Linked DNA regions of Homo sapiens: region 2 is linked to region 1. A link means that fine-mapping ties the variant in region 1 to the expression of a gene that starts in the linked region. Tissue or cell type: lung. Region 1 holds a variant in brackets; the other region holds the start of a gene. All regions are shown on one strand. Distances are from middle to middle.

What was found. PIP is the estimated chance that this variant, and not a neighbour inherited with it, causes the effect.
Region 2: NPFFR1 starts here. The variant in region 1 is fine-mapped to the expression of NPFFR1 in lung (TOPMed, PIP above 0.99).

What each region holds. Positions count from the first base shown.
Region 1 is chr10:70,353,902-70,356,659 of GRCh38, forward strand. All of the region lies in intron 2 of LRRC20 (leucine rich repeat containing 20), which reads right to left. Among named protein-coding and RNA genes, the nearest start is that of LRRC20, 27 kb to the right of the region's middle. RefSeq lists enhancers at 1,445-1,544, 1,765-1,974. The variant G/A (reference allele first, on the strand shown) is at 1,641.
Region 2 is chr10:70,282,924-70,285,423 of GRCh38, forward strand. NPFFR1 (neuropeptide FF receptor 1) reads right to left here and starts at 1,081. Exons shown (of 4, transcript NM_022146.5): 1 at 747-1,081. The coding sequence starts at 753. RefSeq lists an enhancer at 288-789.

The sequences.
Region 1 (2,758 bases):
ACACTAGTATATTGCAGTTCCCATGGAACTATATAAAAGGGGACTTAGAGTTGAAAGAGCTGGTGAAAGAGTCATCAGGGTATCAACAGCCTGGATTTGTCACTTACTGTCTGTGGGACCTTGGGTCCTTATGCCCTTAGTTTTCAAATCTTGGTAAATTGCAACTGATCATCTCCAAGGCCCCTTGCAGCTGCCACTGTGGATTCTAGGACTTGGCCACAACCAGGAGCCACCTTGGGAGCTCTATAGACTCTTGATGCCTAAGTCTCTCTCCCAGAGAGTCTGATTTAATTAGTGGGGGCTGGGGCTTGGGAATGGAAGGGAGGGTAAAAGCTCCCTGGGTGACTCTAACGTGCAGCCAGGTGAACTCTGCACCATACCATCACCTCTCAAACTAAAGTGTGACACCTGGGGACACTGCCAACGTGCAGATTCTGATGCCACATGTCTAGGTGGGGCGTAAGAGTCTGCATTTCCACCCAGCAGGTCCAAGGACCACACTAAGTAGCAAGGGCTACTCCAGTGCAGTGGTTCTCCAAGGGCATCAGCATCACCCACAGCATTAGCATCACCCCAGAACTTGTCAGAAAGGCACATTCTCAGGCACCACCCCAGTCCCACAGAATCAGAAACTCTGGGGGTAAGGCCCAGGCATCTGTGTTTTAGCTGAAGCATCACTGGCCTAGAGGGGCCAGGCCTCCTCCTGATGTAGCTGCTTCCTGTATTGATGATGATAATGGGGTGGTAATGACAGTAACTGAGTGCTGGCTGCTCCTGCCTGCCTAAGGGCATGAGGTTTACACGCTCATGGAAATTTTTTGTGCCCTGGGTTCCTCCTGCTTCCCCTCTGAGCAGACTATTTCAGGACAGAGCAGCAGAGACAGAGTCTCTTCACTCTCTTCTCTCGCTTTGTTCATGCTTCTGGTACTCAGAGGCACACGTGACCCTCGGTGTGGAGGCCGCCCTGGGCTGTAACTCAGGAGGCCTAATTCTTATCCCAGCCCCTCCACTATCAGCCAGGGGGAGCTCAGAGACACTACTTCTTCATGGGCCTTGTCCCCTCATCTGTAAAATGAGGGTTTGGACTAGATGATTTGGGGTCTCAACCAGACCAGACATCCTCTGACTCCATGATTCTACTAAACAAAGGCTCTTCAGACAGCCCTCTGTCAAACAGGAGCCCCCCATGACTTGAGCTGCCAGTCTCTGAAATGTCACTCAATTTCCAAAGTAGGGACACACAGGATGCAGACAGCGAGCAAAACAACTGCTCATCAAGGGATCGTGCCGTGCATCACTGGGCACAATTAGGCATCACTTTAACAAAGCTGTTTGTTGTAGTGCTTACAGAGCTGGCTGGCTCTAAAAGGCTTAAGACAAAAAGCAGCCGGACTTGCTCCCTCTTGACAAATCCCCTCCCCCAGGGACAACCACTTTCAGGTCTTTGGGGGTGTTTTACTCCCGATCTCTAGAGCAATGTTTCTGAGCCTGTTTCCTGTCTCATGCCCCTTATAGAGAAAAGGGCATGGGAGGAAGAGCTCACCGAGGACCACATACGTCCAGAAAGTCCCACCGCAATAGCACACACAGCTACTGGGCCCGGGAGGGTTGTCGGGAAGAGAAGGGCAGAAAGGCACTTC[G/A]GGAAGGCGCGTCTTCTGAGACGTGGGGAAACCACTCAACTTGAAAGTGCCAGTGGGTTTAGGGGGATTTTTTTCTTTCACTTCCTATTTCATGGACTTGTATATTGTGCAAGAGTTTTACAAGCACTTAATGACTTCTTACAAATATCTCCAGTTTAAAGAAAGGAACATCCCCAACATGCAGTGACCCTTGGGGTATGTTTTTCCTCAAACGCCCAAAAACCTGGATCAGTGGAGATGGGTGTTGATGGGGACATAGGGAACAGAGCTAAAGTCCTGCCAGGGCAAAGCTCACGGGAGCTGCTGGGGAGAGCAGCCGCACGCTCAGAGGGCTGTGTGGACACCCCTCTGACAAACGCACACACGAATCCTGCATCTCAGAGGTGCCTTCTCACGTCCTGCTGCAGAAGCCCCTGCCTCTCTAGGAAATAATGTGCTACAGAGAGTTGGCCTCAGAGAAGAAAGCTGAGCATGAGGCCCTCCAGCCAGTGGCTATCATACTCAGTCAGAATAACTTCTAACCACACAAGAGACCTAGAAAGCAATATCTTCTTCTCAGAATCCAAATTGAATCCTTTCTTGGGCCAACTCTTTCTTGCTGTGGGACCTCAGGCAAGTTACTTAACTCCAATCTCAGTTTCTTCTTCAGTAAAGTGAGGACAAGAGCTCTTTCAAAAACCTGTATGCAATCTGGGCATGGTGGCTCACGCCCGTAACCCAAGCACTTTGGGAGGCCAAGGTGGGAGGATCACTTAAGTTCAAGAGTTCAAGACCATCCTGGGCAACACAGTAAAACCCTGGTTCTATAAAAAATACAAAAAGTAGCTGGGTGTGGTAGTGCATGCCTGTAGTCCCAGCTAGCTACTTGGGAGGCTGTGGTGGGAGGATCGCTTGAGCTTGGGAGGCAGAGGTTGCAGTGAGCCAAGATCATGCCACTGCACCCCAGCCTGGGCAACAGAGCCAGACCTTTTGAGACTTTGTCTCAAAAAAATAAAAACAAATAAATAAAGTTTTAAAACCTGTATGTAGTGCTGGGCAGAGTAGCTCACACCTGTAATCCCAGCACTTTGGGAGGCCGAGGCGGGCAGATCACGAGGTTAGGAGTTTGAGACCAGCCT
Region 2 (2,500 bases), 71 kb before region 1:
TTTCCTTAGGGAGAGAAATTCTCTCTACATGGAGGATATCACCTCTAGAATCCCATCTCCCCAACAACCCCACCCCTTCAAGCAGACAAAGTCGGTGACAATTCTTCTGAAGCTAATAGCCAAGCTGTCCTCACCTGGTCTCAAATGATTCTCTGCTCAGACAGCAGGGATTGTGTGCGTGCACACACACAACAGGGACTCTCTCTTTTTGTGTGTGTGTGTGTGTGTGTCTTGTACATGCACACACATATGTACAACACAAATACAGAGGCACCCCAGGTCTTTCTCTCTCTCTCTCACTCTCTCTCTCTCTCTCACACACACACACAAGCACAACATGAATACAGAGGCACCCCCAAGTGTTTCTCTGCCTGTCTCTGTCTCCCTCTCTCAGTGTCTGTCTCTATGTCTCTGTCTCTGTCTCTCTCTCTCTCTCTCTTTCACACACACAGGCACAACATGAATACAGAGCACCCCCAGGTCTTTCTCTCCATCTGTCTCTTTCTGTCTGTCTGTTTTTCTGTCTCACATACACACGCACACACACACACACCATGAACACATGGGCACCCCAGGTCTCTCTCCCTCACTCAGTGTCTCTGTCTCTGTCACACACAGAGTGTCACAACGTCTGGCTCTGGACAGCCATGGGTGATCAGCTGCCCGGCCCTCTCCTCTCCCTTCGCCCCATGCCCCGGAGTCGGTACCCTGCCCCACGGCTGGCCCCCAGCCCCAGGACCACTCACCCTCCATGATGCCCCCAGTTGCGGGCTCCGGCGGTCTCCGATGGCGGGAGGCAGCGGGCCCCTTCGGGCCAGCGGGCAGAGGGACGGTCTCCGGGCACTTGGTTGCGGGCTGCGCCCCTGCCTCCGCGCTCCGCAGGTCCGGTCGGTCCGGGCAGAGGTGAGCAGGGGGCGTGCGCTCCCAGGCCCCGGGCCCTGGCCGGTTTCCCTCCCCTCGGGCTGACTGGCTCCCGCGCAGCGCTGCTGCCCGCAGGGCTCAGCCGCCCGCCGCCCCTCGCCTCCCGACCAGGGGAAGGAGGGGGCTCGTGAGGCGCAGTCGTCATGGCACCCGCGCACCTGTGCCCGCCGAGCGAGGGCGCCCCGGGCCCGCCTCCCGCATGGCGCTCTCTCCACAGAGCCCGAGCGCCCCTCCGAAGTAGGGGACACACCCCTCCTCCCACTGCAGCCCTGGCAGCGGCGTCCCGTAATTCCCCACCTCTCTCCCGTGCCTCATATGCCAGCCTCTGTCCCCACTCCTCATCCTTGCCCACCCTAGCCTGGGGTCCAGCACTCTGGGCCTTCCTGAGAAGGGGATGAGAGGTAGCTGTGAAAACAGGAGGGCTTCGGGAGGGAGGCAGGGGGGAGCCCCACCAGCTCCCGGCTCTCCCAGGAGAATGGGGACAAGTTCTGCTAGGTGACCACGGCTTTGAAATTAACCAGTTCAGGCATTCACCGGGTGGTACCCTTGGAAAAGTTTCTTATAATAATACCTGTGCCTGAGTGTGTTTCTGCATTTGTAAAATGATTTTGAGGGGAGTAAATGTGATACCAAAGTTTCAGCCCAGCCCATAGTAGATGCTCAACAAATGGTTCCTTGAGCTGAATTGGAGAATACTCATCTCCAGCCCCTGTCAGGCACCCAGCAGGCACCACCATAAATTTTCGCCACATGAATAAAGATCCCAGGTTCTATCTGCACTCCTGTGTTTTTCTTGCAGCACTGTTTACAATAGCTAAGATTTGGAAGCAACCTAAGTGTCCATCAACAGATGAACGGATAAAGAAAATATGGTACATATATGTAAATGGAGTACTATTCAGCCATAAAAAAGAATGAGATCCAGTCATTTGCAACAACATGGATGGAACTGGAAATCATTATATTAAATGAAATAAGCCAGGCACAGGAAGCAAACGTCACATGTTCTTACTTATTTGTGAGATCTAAAAATCAAAACAGTTGAACTCATGGACATAGTAGAAGCATGTGGTTACCAGAAGCAGGGAAGGGTAGTGGGAGGATAGGGATGGTTAATGGGTACAAAAAAATAGCTAGAAAGAATGAATAAGACCTATTGTTTGACAGCACAATAGGGTGACTATAGTCCATAATAACTTAATTGTATATTTTTAAATAGCTTAAAAAGTATAATTGGATTGTTTGTAACTCAAAGGATTAGTGCCTGAAGGGATGGATACCCCATTCTCCATGATGTGCTTATTTCACATTACATGCCTGTATCAAAACACCTCATGTACCCCATAAATATATACACCTACTATGTACCCAACTATTTTTTTAAAAAAAGATCCCATGTTCTAGGCAGATGAAAGAAAGTGAATGGTCTATTCCTTCCTCTTTTAGGAGTCAGGAGTTTGCTCACTGGACACTGGGGAAACAGTTGGCATCAAGATTCTTCCTAGTCTCACTTCTTTCCCTAGTTCCTCCTCTGTCCAGAGCAGTGGGCAGAGTCTCACAGCTAGAAGGTCCTTAGGGG